Linked DNA regions of Homo sapiens. The protein of the gene in region 2 interacts with the protein of the main gene of each other region in a pairwise test. Each region holds a gene or a part of one and is shown on either strand. Other genes may lie near its edges.

Region 1 (7,031 bases), on a different chromosome or scaffold from region 2:
TAATGGCAGTGGGGATGATAGATCACTTAAGGGCAGAGACCAGGGGCAGCACTTAGAAGCATATCAGAAGCAAAGTGGGAATAATTATCATATTGGGCACCAAGGTCAGACTAACAACTAGAAGGGATTAGCTTATAGGGGTCTAAGGAGAAGGCTAATAGAGTGTTGGATTCTTAGGGGCTAGAAAGGATGAACAGAAGGCCAAGGTCAGTCACCCCAGTGGAAAGTTATGATGGAAAGGCACAGTTTCCAAACCTCAGCCAGTTCTCGAACCAGAACCCATTGACTGAAAGAGGGACTGGGTTCCCATGAGGAAAGACTCTGTAGCACCACAGCAAGTGTGTATAACAGGAACCTATGGCTATTTATATTCGACCACACTGAGTAAGGGTAACACTCAGATCTTTTGATAGTGATTTCATAGCAATTCACACTTTTTTTTTTCTTTTTTTGAGATGGAATCTCGCTCTGTCACCCAGGCTGGAGTGCAGTGGTGTGATTTTGGCTCACTGCAACCTCCGCCTCCTGGGTTCAAGCAATTCTCCCTGCCTCAGCCTCCCGAGTAGCTGGGATTACAGGCACCCACCACCACGCCCAGCTAATTTTTGTATTTTTTAGTAGAGATGGGGTTTCACCGTGTTGGCCAGGCTGGTCTTCAACTCCTGACCTCAGGTGATCTACCTGCCTCAGCCTCCCAAAATGCTGGGATTACAGGCGTGAGCCACCATGCCCAGCCAGCAATTCACACTTATATCTAGGGTCCCAAAGTGCTGTCATGGCTGTCCTAGTAGAGTGCAGGCTTATTGGGGTAAGACGACAAATATAGTTCTGGCCCAGGTATGTCTCAAATTGGATCCACTAGTTCTGTGTATTCACCCAGAAATCATTTCCTTGGATCCCGAATAAATCATTGGAATGGATATACTTAACCATCAGAAGAGCCCTTACAATGGTTCCTTGATTTATAGAATAAGCAACATTTGTAATAACAAAGGCAAAGTGAAAATGCTGCATTCCCACCCAGCCAAAACAGAAAAACACAAATCTGGAGGGATGGCAGAAATTATTACCATTCTCAAAGACTTAAAGGATGTCTAGTACTTGTTAGCCAAAGACTGAGTTCCTTTGGCATACAATTTTTTTCTTCTTCCTTGACAGGTCCAAGTTGGGCCATGCTGAGATTTGACCCTCCTTGTGGCCAGGAGGGGAGGTGGGGGCCGATCCTGAGGAAGGCATGCATTTTCTCCTGGGGCACTTGTCTCTTTCAGACATCTGCATACTTTTCAAGAGAGAAAAACGTGATATGATGGTCACATCATATCAACCTTTCATTCTCCAGTTTGATCTCTGCAAAAACTGGTTGGATCAGTCCTGACCCTTAGGCTATGTGATTGGCAAATCTGATGATACTCTGCATGGAATGTGAGATTAGGCCCCAACAGGAGTCACTGTCCAAACCCCTAGGGCTCCGGACCAAGGTCATGCCATCTGCAGCAGAGAACCAAACACCACTTGTAAAGCATTTCCTGGCATGCCACTCAGCAGAGTGTCTGACCATAGGACATTAAGTGACCATGTGGCCATAACTGCCCATTATGAGTTTGGTGCTGTCAGACCCACTAGGTCATAAGCCATCCATCATAAGATGGAAATGGTATATCTGGAATCAGGCTTGAGCAGGTCCAGATGGCACAGATAAGCTGCAGGGACAGGTGGCCCAGACCCACCTGCCATCTACCACTGTTGCACGAATATTGGCCCCTGTGCCTCTCTTTCACCCACATGCAAATATGGCCTCCTGGTGGGGGGTGTCTTTTGTCTAGCTGCTGGAGGAGGGAAAAACCCATCTATGCATTGATCATGGATAGGTTAGTTTGGAATGTTGATGCAAGCTGGAAATGGACTTCTGCTGTACTTCAGCCCCACTCAAGGTGGCCCTGAAAGACACTGGGGAGAAGAAATCCTCTTAGTAGAGTTTTGGAGGGTGCACCTGCTTATTCACTTTGTGTGGAGAGAGATGTGGCCTAAGGTAAATATAGACTCATGGACATTGGTGAATAGCTTAGCTCGTTCTTCAGTAGCTTGGAAGGAGCAACATTAGAAGATTGTGGAAAAGTGGTGGCATGGGGAAAAGTTGTAGAGCTAAACCTGTGTGAGTGGGCACAAAGTATGAGACATTAATGACAGCCAGAAACCACTTCTTGTGGAAGAGGCAATAATAACCAAGTGGATAGGATGGGCAGGCAGCTGAATGTCGGCCACCATGCACTCAGAAATAGATAGTCATGGAGTCAGAGAAGGAAGCCATGCCTGTGCCCAGAAGCATACATTCCCTCTCATCAAGGCTGACCTAGTTTTGCTGCTGTTGAATGTAAGAACTGCCAGCAATAGCGACTGGTGCTGAATTCCTGGTATAACACTGCTCCTGGAGGAGACCAACCAGCCACTACTGGGTGACAAGTTGGCTAAATCGGGCCCCTTCCAACCTGGAAAGGGCGGCATTTTCTCTTGACTTGGATTGACATGTATTCCAGCCATCAATGGACTTGCCTTTCCTACCCTCAGTGCAGCAGCCTGTCCTGCTAACCAAGGAATCACAGATAGGGTGGTGGAGCATCCTCTTGGAGGCACAGTGGAGCTGTCATCTTGAAGATGACACCCATGAGGAGGGCCCAGTCTCCTCCAGAATGCAATATGCACTCTAATGGCTATGGGATGAGGCCATGTTCCTGAAAGGTAAAATATGTGGGTTTGGGAACCAAGAACTCTTCATCACTCTCCATGATCCACTTGGGAAATTTGTGCTTCCGCCATTCACAACTTTAGGTTTTGTGGGTCTAGAAGTCCTGGTTCTCAGAGGGGGTCCTTCCACCAGGTGATACATTAACACATTCACTAAATGTACAGCTACAATTGCCTCCTGGTCATGCTGTGCTTCCTTGTGCCAGTAGCCAAGCAGGTAGAGAAAGGTATTACCATCCTGGCACAAGGAGCAAAATGTGGCAATTTACCCTTGTCATTAGGAGGTAGGACTACCGCTACATAATGGAGCAGGAAGAATATGGCTTGCACTCAGATGATTTGCCAGGGTGTTTCTTGGTAGTCTCATGTCCAGTTGTAATTGGGAATGGACAACTTACAACAACAATAGCCTGATAAAGGAATCCAGGATTCAGATGCCTCAGGGATAAGGGTTTGGCTCCTGCTCTAGGGAAGTCACCTAGACCAGCAGTGTTAGCCAAGGGGAAGGGGACACTAGAATGGATGGTGGGGATGGGGCATGATGGTGAGTATCAGTGACAGTCTTACAATCACATGCAGAAGTGGGCATTGTAGTTCATCCCTCTGTTTCTCCAATTGTAAGTTTTCCCTGAAGCTGTGCCTGGATGGAGAGAGCTTAAAGTGGAAAGCAGTAGGTCTGAGCAGTCAAGGGGTGGACTGTAGTGCCTGCTGTTGGCACCTCACTGGCTGACTGGCCTGCACACCCAGCCTTTAGCCGCAGTGAGCAGCAGCTGCAGACTGCTCACAGCTACACCCTTCTCCTGAGAGTTTCCTGGAAATGCCTGGAAGATCTTCCCTCCCCACTGGCCCTCAGCTGGTGGCTTTGATACAGGTACAATAGGCTGGCCCCTCTCCCAGGAGGGACAACCCTGTGATATTCTTCATGCATCAGAGCCCTTGTGGAACCAGACTGAGGCGGACTTAAGCTGGACCTGCCTTTTTGACTGGCTTCTTACCTCTCGTTTTCTGTCCCCCCAACTTCCTTATAGCTTCTGCTGACAGCGCTCCCGCAAACACCATTTTCCAAGAATTCCAATCTCAGGCTCTACTTCTTGGGAACCTGACCTAAAACAGATACAAATCATGTTTTCCCTTCCTACTGTGCAGGCTGGCAGCAGACAAACGATGCAGGCAGGCAGTGAGACTCAGATTGGGTCCTCCTGTCGGAACAGCTGGGATATGATGTCCATGCCCTCTCCCAGGACCCAGGTGGAACTTGAATACTGATTCATCATACTCACTTTTCATTTGGAGAGTGAATTTTGGGTAAATGACTTTGCAATCCATGAAAGTGAATACTCAGAACGTTTTCAGGTAGCAGAGGATCCCTGTACTTCCAAGACAGAGTGTTCATTGAGATCAGCCTCACAGCCGTGCCCTCTGGATCACAGCCCAGGAGCATGGAAAATCCCACTTCTTGGCCTCTCCAGCACTCCCCTTTCCTACTTGTTTATTGGCTGGGCTGATAGTTGCTGGTTGTCTACAACAAAGATCCCACTGGGGGGGCTAATACTCAGGTATTGCCAGGTAAGGAATGCTGTGAATATCACTCCAGGTCACAAGTGCTTGTGTTAGGGGACTCCTGGGACTACGAAGGGTTTGGTAAGAGTAATCTGTGTTGAATCTAGCCTCATTTCCTTTTTCTTTCTTTTATAGTTTTTAATTTTTTGGTAATAGAGAACTTCGAAGTAAGTAAAGGAGATAGTATAATAAACCCTGATGTACTCACTGCCTGATATCAATAATTGCAACCTTAATTCATTCCAGTATATTTTTACATGTGTTTCAGACTGAAATAAAGGGAGATGTTCAGCCTCAGGTGTAGAAGCAGTGAGACAATTTCCCACCACGGAGGAAGATGAAGAGCAGGAGAGGAGAGGCTGGCGGCTCCCAGGAGCAGATCACCTGCCCCCACTGCAAGGCCCCCGTGTGCTCAATAAACTGACCCTTGCGCAGAGACTAAGGCTCACTTATTGGAAACTATTATTGTTACAGTTACTAAGTAATTAACAAGTGATGCATAGGGCTGGTCAGTTATGTGACTATACGTGCGCGTGTGTGCACGCACGAGTGCATGTTTAGTTCATTACAGAAACACCATCATTTCTTTGTAATCAGCTGAAATCACCACTCATTAGTGGGCCTCTCGTGGGCTATAACTGATTTTACAGCCACCTGTCATTTCTTTTTTCTTTACAACTTTGTGCGTTTGTGTTTTTCATGGCATGCTCAGGGTACACTATGTTCTGCACGCAAGCAGGGGGCTGCACGGGCTCCAGCTCCCCTTCTCAGGCACGTCCCTCTCGATGTAATGTGTAGGATGGAACTTCTTCCCATGCGCTCTGTGAAGGGGCCCCGCAGCTCCCCAGCTGGACAGCTGCTCTGGAGACTTTGGCAGGGCTGGGCACCTGTGGAGCCTGAGGCCAGACCCAGGGAGCCACACTGTGGGAACCACAGGGCACCTGGAACATAGGTTTAATCCGGGCCTGTCTGTGAGTAATAGTGTCACAGTGGGAGGGCAGGAGGCAGGGTGAGTCAGTGGCTCCTGGAAAGGGATCTGTCATGACTCACATGGCGTTTCTTCCCTCATCCTTCTATCCTTCTACTTGCAGGACTTTCCTACAATTCTGTCTGTGCTGGTTCACGGTTATGTAGCATCAGGATGGGGCTCCCTCTTTGCTCAGGCCAGCAAAAGAGAGACAGAAAGAGAGAGAGAGATTGAGAGAGTGAGAAAAACAGATATACACACACACACACACAGAAAAAGAAACAAAGCGAAATACAGAAAGATAGACACAGAGAGAGAGTGAGAAAAACAGATACACACACACACACACAGAGAAAAAGAAACAAAGCGAAATACAGAAAGGTAGACACAGAGAGAGAGAGAGACAGAGTGACAGAGACAGAGAGAGAATACTACAGACAGACACACAGAGAGACAATGAGACAGAGAGAGAGGGGGAGAAAGAGACAGAAAGAGAGAGATACAGAGAAGTTCACACAGCTGTGAGGGGGCTAAAGGAGGAAGTGTCCACTCCTGAGAAGGGAAGGGAAGAGAAAGGCAGAAGGAGGGGCTGGGCCAGGTGTCCCAACACAGGGATAGGAGCACACAGGGGACATGCCTGGGCTGCCTCCAAAGGCCTGGCTCAGCTGAGGAATGACAGACTCCACAAGGGGCTTCCCACATCAGATGGGCCAGAATGTTCCCCTGGAGGTCACTAAACAGGGGCTCAAATCTCTCTTGCCTTGGGGTGGCTTCAAGGCAGAGGCCAGGGGCACTTTGTGCCTCTCTCCATCTGTCCCCTCTCCTCCTGGGGGTCTTGCTGTGGGCAGGTGCAGGTGTGGGCCTAGCTGCATCAGTCAGAGGGGCTCACGCTGGGGCTTCTGTGGCCCACTGATCCCCTGGATCTCACTAATGATGTCCCCTTTGGCTTGCTCCTGCCCTGGGGCTTCCTAGACATAGCTACTCCTTCTGAGGGGTCCTCATCCCCAGAGGCCTGGGCACAGGCAGCAGAGTGCTTCTCCTGGGGACAGCCCCCACTCTTGTCACCTCCCAGCCTGGCCCAGCCTCCTGTCCTGGCTACAGCAGGGGCACTGGGGTTGTGACACGGCATATGATGGATGGCCCAGCCCTGGTCCCACAGATGCAGCCCCAGCCCTCACCCCCACACCAGCTGCCTGCCCACAGCGTGCCCATTCCCTGAAGTCAGGGACCTGTCACTGCTCCGCTAGGCCTTGGCGCTGCCTGCTCCTCCCACACGGGCCCCTCCTCCCAGCACACCTGCTTGGGGGCCACCTGGAGCTTTGCACTCTGCACACCTGTCTCAGAGCAGGTGCCATGGCAGTATGGGGGGGCATCTCTCCTGCTGGGGCCCAGGACAATTCCTGCCAGGGATGTGGGTAAGCATGATGGAGTGCACCTTATTCCATCCTCATTCCACTTCTGAGCCTGCTCCTTCAATGGGGCAAAGGTGTCCAGGGCAGCTGGAGGGAGGAAGGTCAGTTCCTCCCGGCATGCCCTCCTGGTGTTACAGATTGAATTGTGTCCCCCCAGATTCATATGTCAAAGCCCTAACCCCAGTGTGATGGTATCTGGAGATGAGACCTTTGGGAGATAATTAGGTTTAGATGAGGTAAGGAGGGGGAGCCCCCATCATAGGATTAGCATTCTTATAAGAAGAGACACCAGAGAGCTTGTTTTCACTCTCTCTCCACGATGTGAGGACACAGCAAGAAGGTGGCGGTCT
Region 2 (5,225 bases):
CGTGCCGGCCTCTTCTCGTGGCAATACCAACGCATTCATTTCTTCCTGGCTCTGTGAGTAGTTTGCTTCTTCCCATCTGTCAATATCCAACACCCTGGGACAGTGGACGAAGTGGGATTCCAACCTTCCATCTATTTTTTTACCCTACTTCTCCTCTTTACTCTGTATATAAAAACGATAAGATTATACTATGGTGTTCTTAGTCTGTTCTTTCTAAAAACAAACACAAATGCAGTTGACAAATAGTAGAATCAAACAAAAGGAAACATAAACCCGTCCTAAGGGGAAAGGAAAGCCGTGGACACGACCCTGCTCCCCAAGCAAGCAGCCATTTCTGGTTCTCTCGTCTCTCTCCTTCCCATATCAACACCAAATGCAATTTTCCATCCTCCTTCTCCAGGTTCCCATGACAGAGGCAGAAATTCAGGTCGTCCTCGCATAACACAGATCCATCATCAAATACTCCCTGCTGGGCATTCCTGCGAGTCCTGCCCCAAGCCAGGGGGCTTCCTAGTGCTGCCTGAATAGCTTTCCAAAGCACAGCTCCCACCCCCCCTTCACTGCCCACCTGAACAACCTCCTTAGCTGATTTGTCTCTAAACGGAGGCCCGGGTCCACAGGGCTAATTCAACCCTCTCTGCAGTCCTTCTACCACCAAACCTGCCCACCATCTTCATCTTTCCTTGTTTGCTTTCGCCACTCCTTCCAAATGCCCTCCACTCCATTTTGATTTTGTGTTTTCTGTCTGGGTGTCCTGCACACATGTGGATCTGAAGGGAATGACCCATTCCTTAAAGTCAGTTCAACCCCACAGCCTTTGCAATGCCTCCCCTGATCTTCCAGCTTCTGCACGCCCACAGCACTTTAGTGACATCCTAGGATAATGTGACATTTTGGATTCGTTTATCTGCCCTCCTTTTCCCCAAACCCATCAGAGTAGACCCCTGTTGAAGGCAGGGTCTTGTCAAAATATCAAAGTTTTTTGTTTTTATCTTTACCGGACAGAGACTTGCTCTGTCCCTCAGGCTGGAGTGCAGTAGCCAGATCATAGCTCACCGCAGCCTCCATCTCCTAGGCTCTAGTGAAGCTCCCACCTCAGCCTCCTGAGTAGCTGGGACTACAGGTGCATGCCACCACATCTAGCCAGTTTTTATGATTTTTAGTAGAGATGACGTTTTGCTATGTCACCCAGGCTGTTCTGGAACTCCTGGGTTCTCACCTCAGCCTCTCAGAGTGCTGGTATTATAGACATGAGCCACCCAATCAGCCAAAATATCAAAGTATTCCTGAAACACTCAGCACAATTCTTTTCATTTTGCAAGTGCTCATGTTATATTGACTCTATGGAATAATTCATATGGCATTTGCCTATAAGATAAATCTTTCCTTCTTTCCTTCATTCATTCATGTATTCATTTATTCAACAAAACCTTATGAAGTTCATCATATGTGCCAGGGAATAGGAAGGATGGGAAGGGAGAGTTCACAGCAATGCTTGTTGAATTAATGCACCAAGATAAACAAAGCCCTCTAGTGGCCTTTTGGTAGGTGAGAGATGATTTACAGAAACACACCAGTCAGTTCCTGTCCTTGGGGGCACTTATGATGCACGGGGGAAGACAGGTGTGTGCATACATGACAAGGAAGGGGGGTGTGGGAGGAACAGGGATGGGGACTAGGATGAGGTGACGTCATCTGTCTTGTATAAGGATGGCAGGACACATCCTTAGCATAAGACTTGGGTTGTTTTTAAATTCAGAGGGGGTCTTGCCATATTACCCAGACTGGTCCCTAACTCCTGGCCTCCAGTGATCCTCCTGCCTGGACTCCCAAAGTGCTGGGATTCCAAGCAAGAGCCACCACTCCCAGCTACCACTTGGATCATCTCCTTCCTGAAGGTTTGAGAGGCACCCTTAGCAGGTCTCTGTCCAGCGGGGCCTCCTGAGGAAGGCAGGGCTCTCTGCAGGGCGGCTGTTGGTGCTGAGCTGAGGAAGGTCCCCTGCCCTCCTCTCTGAGAGGCTGCCCTCAGGCAGGGGTCCCTCCTGGTGGGGCCCCTGAGCAGCAACCTGATCTCTCTCCCCAGCTACCTGGCCAGTGACATGGAGGAGGACAACCAGGCCCCGAAACAAGACATCTTCTCCTTCCTCTACGGGAAGAACTACTCCCAGCGACCCTTGTTCCATAAGCTTCGATACCAGCTCCTCTGTTCCATGCGCTGGAGGACGTGGGTTTCCCCAGAGGAGATGGAGGAGGTAGGTGGGGCCATATGAGGAGGTGGGGGTGGGGAGGGATGGGGTGGACTGGAGGCTGGAGGAGGGCAGAGAGGGGGCTTCCTGGGGAATCCCTGGCTTCTCAAGTGGTGTGTGTTTTTCCAGATCCAGGCTTATGACCCAGAGCACTGGGTGTGGGCCCGAGATCGCACCCTCATTTCCTAGAGCTCCGGGGACATGGAGGCCTGAGGTCATCGGCCTGAGGGAAGGTACGTGTGTATCCTCCAGGGTAAAGGCAGAATATTCTCATCTATAAGAAAATCCAAGGAACTCAACTGCTTGATCCAGCTTCAAGCCTGGTCAACATGGCGACACCCCGTCTCCACAAAAATACAAAAATTAGCCGGGCGTCCTGGTGGGCGCCTCTAGTCCCCACTACTCAGGAGCCTGAGGCGGAAGGAACACCAGAGCCCCGGAGGTCGGGGCTGCAGTGAGCTGTGATTCTGCCACTGCACTCCAGCCGGGACGACAGAGTGACACTCTTTCTCAAAAATGAGAATACTACCTAGGTCCAGGGAGGTTCATTATGGTTGATACACTTGAGTTACTGATTTGAGGAAAGGATTCAGTGAAGATTTGGTTGACATCTTGTGCAGCTAACCACATTTAGGACCAAGCATTAGACTAAAACATGAGAGATTAAGGTTGGGGATTAGGAATCTGGTCTGCTGGTTCCTGAGGTTGTCGTGTTAGACATGTTTGTAGCATGGTTAAAAGTTTAGATCTTAAGCAATATAAAGGGCCCCAAGTGTGATGAAGTCCAAAGCCACGTCCTCCAAGGGTGCTCTACTCCCTGGGTGGAGCCACCCAAAGTCCTTGCTATGAAGCAGATCACTGGGGCTAACCTTGGGTATATTAAGTGATTTTTGGAGTCAAGCTCACCAAAGTGTGAGTACCAGAATCAAAAATGATGGTTCAGAATCAGGGTTTACAATAAAGGGTTAGAGATAAAATCAGATTTATATATTGCTCTGAACTCTAGTTAGGATTGATGTGGGATGGGAATAACCTTCCTATCTAGAGATCTCCCTCCTTGAAGTGTGACATCCTCTCTCTCACTTCCAGAACACTGGGCCCAGGGGAGATGGGAATTTTCAGCAGGAAGTTTATCGCGACGCTAATGCCAGACACCAGGAAGGGAGAGAGGAGCCTCCTGTGCAGATCATCTAGAAGAAGCTGGACTCTTCTAGAAGGGGCAAAATAGATTGACCAGGTTTTCCTCCTAGGAGCCATGGAGGTATTTCTAGGAGTCAGTGGAGGGAAAGTGAGAAACCAGGGGTGTTTCTGGTTCCACCCCTTCCTGCGGCAAAACCTCCCTTTTCACGTTGCTGAATCCCAGCCTCCCCTGGGCTGGAAGCTGGAGTTCCTGTTTCCTATGGACTTGGTTGCCACAGTCCAGAGCATTTGAAGGCACAGCGCAGGCACTCAGATTGTTACGGAATTCTTTGTAAAATATGAAATTACTGCCATAGGATTTTAAGAGATAGTTTAATAGATACTGTACATTTTGTTGGTTTATTTTTCAAATGTTGGCCATAGAATTATTACTAGGTTGATTTAAAATAGTTTGGGGTTTTTGTAGTTTTGAAAACATGCTGTTCCTATAGAGTTCTCTGACGGTTGTTATATACACATAAATATAATTTAGTTTTCATTTTTAAGAGAGGATTCTTTTTATCGTAAATGTTTTCTCTTTAAATCGTTTTATCTATTATTAAATGTGCTCCTGAAGCGAGCACTCTTGTAATCTATGATACTGACCTAATATATCCATTATATTTATAGCTAGGTGGTAGTTCCCCTACATTCTTGCAAATAGAAATGTTTATTTTCTGTTTACTGTTTGTTACTGAATTGTGAGAATTCAGTTGTGATTTTTAACATGCCTTCCATATATACTAACATGTCCAATATATACTATACATTTTATTTGTTTATTTTGAAAATGATGGGCATGGCATTATTACTACATTTATTTAACTAGTTTAGAAATACAAGTATTTTTTAAAAGACACTGTTCTTATGAAGTTGTGTGATGGGTGTTACACCTGTTATATACACATAGATATAATTCTGTTTTCATTTTTAAGAGAGGATTCTTTTTATCCTAAATGTTTTATTTTTAAATCTTTTTATCTGTTATTACATGTGCTGCTGAAGGGAGCACTGTTATGACCTAGAGTAGTTACATAATATATCTATTCTATTTATAGCTAGGTGGCATTTCCCCGAAATTCTTGTAAAAATAAATTTTTATTTGATGTTGAGTGTTTGTTTGTTATTGAACTGTGAGAATTCAGACGTAATTTTTTAGCTTGTATTGAAAGGTTTGTATGTTACTTTAAAGAGGACATGTGTTTGAAAGGAGGACAGGAGCTGTGTGTTTCAAAGAGGACAGTGCACTGCGCTACCTGGGAAAATGCAATAAAGATGAAGTTTTCTCATCTTCACAACGACTGTGACCATATTGGTCTGGATTGCTTATTTGTTGTCCAATGACATTTTTGTTTAATGCGGTTTTAGTTATTTGAACAAATCTATTAACCCTGGAAAATAATGCTGAATCTTTTTGTTTGTTTGTTTGTTTGTTTTTGAGATGGAGTCTTGCTCTGTCACCCAGGCTGGAGTGCAGTGGCGCAATCTCAGCTCACTGCAAGCTCCACCTCCTGTGTTCACGCCATTCTCCTGCCTCAGCCTCCCAAGTAGCTGGGACTACAGGCACAGGCCACCATGCTCGGCTAATTTTTTGTATTTTTAGCAGAAACGGGGTTTCACCGTGTTAGTCAGGATGGTCTTGATCTCCCGACCTCGTGAGCCATCCGCCTCGGCCTCCCAAAGTGCTGGGATTACAGGCGTAAGCCACCTCCCCTGGCCCTTTATTTTATTTTATTTTATTTATTTATTTATTTATTTGAGACAAGGATCTTGTCCCATTCCCCAGGCTGAAATGCAGTG
Region 3 (7,031 bases), on a different chromosome or scaffold from region 2:
GAGTTGGCTCGTCGAGGTTACTACAATGGCACAAAATTCCACAGAATTATCAAAGACTTCATGATCCAAGGAGGTGACCCAACAGGGACAGGTACAGTTAAGCCAACATTAGTTTATGTTTTCTTTTTTTTTTCTCCTTTTCGTCTTTTTTTCTAAAGCCAGCATTAGTTTCTGAAGTCTCTGTCGTAAATAGGTGATAAGGCAGCCAGAGCTCTCTTTTCCACTTACTAAGGTCTGTGTTGGTTGATTCTGGTGACAACGCCTGCCTTCCTCAAACACACATGTGTGGAATTGACCAGAAACCAACCTTTACTCCTAGGCTTGGTAGAGTTTTTCATAACTTACATGTACTGCTCACTAAGAACAAATAATATTTGTCTGAATTATAGTGATGCAAGTAGTCTGATCAATAAGAAGGAAAGACTTTATAATATTTTGAGAATAATAAAATCCTGGGTTCTTTTATCGATTCATTCATTTAACAAATACTGAGTACCTGTTTTGTGTCAGATACTTTTTTAAGCTCTAGGGAGATACCTATAAACAAAGAGACAGAATTATTGCTCTCAATAAAGCAGGAAAAGGGTGTGGGGATGGAATTTTAGTAGAAAAGTCAGGGAACTCCTCTCTGACATTATTGGAGAAGAGATCTGAATGAAGTAAGAAAGTGAACCTTGCAACTGTGGGGAGAACATTTTGGATGGAGGGAAGAGCAAACACAGAGGCCCTGAGGCAGGAACCTGTGCTGGAAATCATAAGATATGATACCTTATAGGGCATGGTAGAGACTGGGTTTTATTCTGAGTAAGATGTGATGTGAGTCATTGGAGAGTTTTGAGCAAAGGAAAGACATGATCTGATCTATGCTTTAAAAGGATCACTCTAGGCTGGGCACGGTGGCTCACGCCTGTAATCCCAGCACTTTGGGAGCCCGAGGCAGTTGGATCATTTGAGGTCAGGAGTTCAAGACCAGCCTGACCAACATGGTGAAACGCTCTGTCTACTAAAATACAAAAATTAGCCGGGCGGGTTGGTGGGCACCTGTAATCTCAGGTTCTTAGTCGGGAGGCTGAGGCAGAAGAATTGCTTGAACCCAGGAGATGGAGGTTGCAGTGAGCCAAGATCGCACCACTGCAGTCCAGCCTGGGTAACAGATTGAGACTCCCTCTCAAATAAATAAATAAATAAAAGGATCACTCTAGCTGCTGTTTAGAGAATAGATGTAGGGGCAAGATGTAAACACTATGTAAATAGTTGTTGTACTGTATTGTTTGGGGAGTAATGACAAGAAAAATAGTTCTATACATGTTCAGTACAGATGCTTCCCCCCAAGATGTTTTCAGTCGCGGTTAGTTGAACCCATGAATGTAGAACCCACATGTAGGGAGGGCCGACTATGCTCATGAGTAAGTAGTTGGATAGGAATATGGGGTTCAGGGAAAGACCTGGTATGGAGGTATTAATTTGGGAGTTACTGGCATTTAGATGGGGTTTATTAGTGAACTGGTGGAACCCTTACTCATTTCAAGGGCCCTTGCTTCTCAGTCTGCTTCTTCTCTGCTAATTTCTGCTCGTTTGCCTTTAAACAAGTTTGGTTTTCTCTATAGCAGAGTCTTTTCTCAGTCTTGTTCTTTTTTGTCATTCTTAATCGTCTCATGATTTATCATCTATGGTCAGAAGCATTCAGGTTTTTGGGTTTTTTTTTTTTTAATGTATATGGATGCATTTCAAAATACAGAATATATAAGAAAGCAGAGAAAAGGGGAAAAATCATTCATAAGCATAGCTCCTAAAGATTTCTAACCATCATTAACTAATCCCTAAATATCCCATCTTTCAGAAAGGAACAGTGTTAACTTTTGGTGCCCATCATGTCTGGTTTAAGGGATGACAGGATAAATGGAAGTAGTTTCAAAAAAATAGGATATATAAGCTATTGTTTTTAAAACAGAACATATTACATTTAATTTCATATATATAGAACAGAATATTTGACTTCCTACAGTGAAAGATGAGGCAATTAGTACTTAAATTTCTACCCATTCTTATTTTTCCCCGACCTTAATTTTTGTTGTTAGTTTTATTATTATCTGTTCTGCACTCATCATTCCTTCAGCTACAGTGTGGGTCCTACGTTTCAGTGTATTTAGTGTTCACAACTTGCTTCGCTTTTACCTTCGCAAGTGCTGGAGGGCAGGATTTCTTGTCTAGTGGTTTTTTAGTGTTTTTTTTTCAGAATGCTCAAGAATCACAATTGTCCAGTGGTTTTTTGTTACAAGAGCTGGAATGTGTTGTATTTTTAAGTTCATTCATGTTTCAGAATTTCTGCCTGTTACTTTTATACTTGAAAAGAGATAGCATGTTGGCATGCTCAGCCCCCTCACTGTGTGATGCACTGTGCCACTTTGGGACTTCACAGAGTCCCCACCAGCAAGAAGGCTCTCACCAAATGTGGCCACTTGACCTTGGACTTCTCAGCCTCCACAACTGTAAGAGATAAATTACTTTTTTAAAATAAATTTTTTAGGCCAGGCATGGTGGCTCACACCTGTAAGCCTAGCACTTTGGAGGCTGAGGCGGGAGGGTCACTTGAGTTCAGGAGTTCAAGACCAGCCTGGGCGACATAGTGAGACCCCGTCTCTACAAAAAATAAAAAATTAGCTGGGCATGGTCGCATATGCCTGTAATCCCAGCTACTGGGAGGCTGAGGTAGGAGGATCACTTGAACCTGGGAGGTTGAGACTGCAGTGAGCCATGATTGTGCCCACTGCACTCCAGCCTGAGCGACACAGTGAGACACTATCTCTAAATAAATAAATTAAAATAAAATAAAAATATTTAAAAGGAAGAAAAAAAGACCATAACTGGGTATAGCATTCTGAGATCTTTTTAGACATTTCTGATCAATTGCCTTCTGGTTTGGTTTTTTGTTGTTGTTTGTTTTTGTTGTTGTTGTTGTTGTTTTTGGAGACAGGATCTTGCTCTGTCACCTAGGCCCAGGCTCGAGTACAGTGATACAATCATGGCTCACTGCAATCTCCATCCCCTGGGCTCAAGCATTTCTCCTACCTCAGCCTCCCGAGTAGCTGAGACTACAGGCATTCACCAGCATGCCTCACTAATTTTTAAATTTTTTATAGAGTTGAGGTCTCACTGTTGCTGAGGCCGGTCTCAAACTCCTGGGCCTAAGTGATCCTCCTGCCTCGGCCTTCCAAAATGTTGGGATTACAGGCATGAGCCATCATGCCTGGCTGCCTTCTCATTTTTGAATATGGTTTTGGAGAATACTGAGGCCAGATTTACTCCTTCCTTTACATCAGGGTTAATTTTTTGATTTCTATTTCTGAATATTTTCTCTGTTATACTTACTGGATTTTCTATTTCAGGAAATATAGTTATTTGTTTCATCACCTTTGCCTTCCATATCTATCATATTTCTTTTGATTGTGTGATAGGATTTTTTTTTCTTTTTTCCCTGCATTCACTAAAATAATCTCAGACCTTTACTCTGTGCCTTACTCAATTTTCAGTCATTTTTATTCTGTTCTTTACTGCTCTAATTTATCTACTAGCTCATTACTGATGCCATTTGAATCTAAATTTGTTTCCTTCACTCTGCAATCTTTTCATCTTATTCTGTGGTGTATTATCTTGTCTTTGAGCTTTTGTTATATTATATTTTTACTTCTCTTGAATCATCCATAGCTTGAGATAGCCATGGAGAAGCCACTTTCTCCCAGGCTGAGTTCCTGGGTTTTCTTTTCCTTTCTCCCCTCCTCCTTTCTGTCCTTCTGTTGGTTGTGGTATGTTTGCCTAGTTTCCATGCCATTTGTTTTCATCTTATCCATGCTTGATGTCAACACCTACATTATCCCCACCTTTTACTTGCTCAGATACAGTGTAAGTGGAGTCTCCTTGTCATTCTCCCCACTTATGTGGAACTGGTTGTCTTCCCCACTTCAAATGTTAGGTTGCTTTCTCTCTATTCTATTCTAGCCTGAAGAGGTGTGGGAGAGAACTGGAGCTCAGCTCATGCTGAGCGAGCCCCTTGTGGGAGGGCTAGCCTCTGTTCTATCTTCCCAGACTCCCTTAAAGTCTTGTCCCAGAGCCCCCTCCACCAGCCAGTGGTGTCCCTCTGTCACCACTCCAGGCTCTGGGTAGTCCCCAAGTATGGCCCAGCACCCTGGAAGGTGGCCAGCCCTGCGTGCCTGCCCTGCCACTCCCGAGCCCCTGTGATATGTGTGGGCTTCTGCCCTCAAGGGCTTTGTTTTCAGAGCTGCTCACCCACTCCCCTGTTGGCTGTTCAGAATCGGAGGGTATTTGTGAGAATCTCAGCATGACATTTCTTTCCTGGTTACTGGTTTCAGGGAATACAGATGGAAGAATTTTCTATTTTTTCCTCTTGGCTGACTCTTTTTACAATTTTAGCATGTTTGGTTCCCTTTTCTTATTTGGTTGATGCTGGTGAACTTTTGACTTTTTAATTTTTAATTTTTGTATGTTCACTTTATTGGGTGTTGGGAGCATGTGGTAAACGTGCCTGATAGCAATAACTGAAACATACCCTTAGAATGACCCTGTATGGCAGACGCATCTGAATGTGTGTTCTGAGCTAGGGAATCCAGGAGTAGCCAACCTGGAGGTTCCTTCCTTGTCTATAAAGGGACATCTGAGCCCCTGGCTCGTCCTGTGAAACATGGGCCGCACACGGGTTGAGGCCCCGAGTTTTGAGTTGAATGAAGATTGCCAGGTGGAGATTGTTAGGGAGAAGGTGCTAAGTGGAAATGCTATATAAACTGCATGCTTTTTGCAAGCCATTGTGGTTCTCCGCCACCATTGGACTCTCTGCCCTGTATGTAAGTCCCCAATAAAACCCCATGTCTCATTTGCTGGCATTAGGTCTCTTCGGTCTATTGAACCTGATGCCATCCCCATTGGAGTCAATAGAGGTTCGGCACAACAGGGAGGCAGAGTCTAGTCCTGCTTCATTCTACTTTCTTTGTCTGAAAGGGTTCCGTCGGTACTTCGATGTACTTCTTTCCTGTCTTCTTCCTCTCTCCCCCTCATGTTGTTATGAAATAAATTTTAATTCTTAATACCAGTGAACTGAGAGTCCATGATTAGGGTACAAGTATTGGAAGTGACTCAGGTGTGAGTTGCTCATGCCACAGCTTTTCTGTATTTCTGTAGTTGGTTCATGATCCTTCATAATGTCACATTTCCATGGTGTAATTTTAATGAAATTGAATCACTCAAAAGATCTTCAAATAACTGCACCCAGCCTCAAGTATAATGAATGACTGAGCAGCCCACTGGCAGGTCTATGGTGGAAGGCAAGCAGGAGTTAGGCTCTCCTGGGTCACTAGTTCATATTTTCTAGCTGATTAGGTGACACGTTTTTTGTTAAACATCTCAGATGGGCAGCAAATGACATCCTGGGCTCTTCAGCAAGTTGATGTACCACTTCCATTCCCAGCTGTCCCTCAGTCTGACTACTGTGGAACCATTCTTTCCACATGCTTTCTTGTAATACATCTTTGCCAGATGCCTTGTCAATTCAAATACCCTTTGACTTCCTGCTTCATTTCATTTTAAACCATTTTTCTACCTTCAACTTTCCCATATTATAATAACTATAGAGGCTCTTTCCTTAGCCCTCTGAGTGTCTTTTATTTGTTTCTACTAACCTTTCTGTCCTCTCTGTAAGACATAACATCCTGTCAAGTTCTTCCTTTAGCTCTTCCTGCTCTGCACTTGGCCTCACAGTGCTCACCAGCTGCTGTGATTAATTATATGCTGATTATCCTGTGCGTCACTCTCACTTTGATTTCATCTCTCCTCTTGGTAGCCCCAGGAACACCTGAAATGTAACGTGTTGAACAGCAAGCTCTGTTAATTTTATTCATTTGATGAGTATTTGCCAAGAGTCTGCTGGGTATCCTGTGCTATTCTAAGGCCTGGGAGAAGCACTTAAGCATTAAAAGCCAAGGCATTTTCTTTTTCCTTGCAGTTCCCTGCCCTGCCAGGAAACAAACTATTCATTATAAGAAACAACTAGAATGGGATAATATAAATATGCAAATGTATGATAGTACGGTGTGGATTATGTATATAATATAGGTTGGAGTAATTCACAATAAGGGAAAAAGCACAATGGAATGAGATTAGGATGGGAAGGAGGCATATGCGAGATGGGTCTTGGGAAGTAGAGGGAAGGGCATTTTGAATTTAGGAAGAAGGGTGGGTACAGGGCAGGAGTGACAGAGGCATGCAGGGGTAGGGAGGGAGCCCGCCACCCCCGGTGTCACATCTTCCACTCTAGACTGGCTCTTGTGACATCACCCAGCCACCTCTCCACACCCAGAACAAATGCATCAAATGTGATTCAAAGGCCCCTGTAAAATTTACAGATCTCGGAACTGCCTGTTTAGGGGACAGTAAGGAGCAGTTTGGGGCCAGTTAATGGAGACTCCTAGACAGAGGAGTTCAGATTTGATTGAGCATGACTCAGGGACCATTTGGGACTCTTGAGTCTGGGATAAGACAAATCTGAGGAAATTTCATCCAGCTGTGGACTATGGCAAGACAGTTTGGTTCAGGGTAGAGCAGGACTGTGGAGCTTGGGCTTGCCTTGTGCTTCACATGAATACTTACTAAATGTAGAGGAGTTGCCTTACCCTGCTGAGCCAGCTCACCTGTCGGGAGTGTGGTTACGTGCACCTCCTAGGCTGGTTGTGAGTAGTAAATGAGCTGATGTTGGTACAGTGGTTAGCATGGGCTTGACACAAAGTGGGAGCTCAAACAAATGTGACTGGTTTTTTTTTTTTATTGTTAATTCATTTAACAAATACCTATTAGACTCCTTCTGTAGGCCAGGCACTCTTCTAAAAGCTGGAGATACAACAGTGAATAAGAAAGCCCTCGCGGTGCTCTCATTCTGGTGAGAGACGGAGAATGAAAAAGTACATAATATACTCTCAGGGATGGCAGATGATATGGAAAAAAGAATGTACTGCTGGGATGGAACAGGA

Evidence for each region. Proteins that work in one complex are often made in the same cells at the same time.
Region 1: the proteins of SPDYE4 (region 2) and GCK interact in binary tests that used the Homo sapiens proteins (3 or more experiments, as listed by UniProt).
Region 3: the proteins of SPDYE4 (region 2) and PPIL1 interact in binary tests that used the Homo sapiens proteins (3 or more experiments, as listed by UniProt).

Annotation. Positions count from the first base shown.
Region 1 is NC_000007.14:44,179,414-44,186,444, forward strand, and holds part of GCK (hexokinase-4), read right to left. Parts: intron 4,741-7,031; exon of another isoform or gene 4,571-4,740; intron 4,048-4,570; exon of another isoform or gene 3,889-4,047; intron 2,737-3,888; exon of another isoform or gene 1,978-2,736; intron 1-1,977. UniProt on the Homo sapiens protein: Catalyzes the phosphorylation of hexose, such as D-glucose, D-fructose and D-mannose, to hexose 6-phosphate (D-glucose 6-phosphate, D-fructose 6-phosphate and D-mannose 6-phosphate, respectively).
Region 2 is NC_000017.11:8,750,348-8,755,572, reverse strand, and holds the end of SPDYE4 (speedy protein E4), read left to right. Parts: coding exon 1-53; intron 54-2,083; coding exon 2,084-2,252; intron 2,253-2,375; coding exon 2,376-2,435; 3' UTR 2,436-2,479; intron 2,480-3,335; 3' UTR 3,336-4,720; downstream 4,721-5,225.
Region 3 is NC_000006.12:36,864,778-36,871,808, reverse strand, and holds part of PPIL1 (peptidyl-prolyl cis-trans isomerase-like 1), read left to right. Parts: coding exon 1-91; intron 92-7,031. UniProt on the Homo sapiens protein: Involved in pre-mRNA splicing as component of the spliceosome. PPIases accelerate the folding of proteins. Catalyzes the cis-trans isomerization of proline imidic peptide bonds in oligopeptides. Catalyzes prolyl peptide bond isomerization in CDC40/PRP17.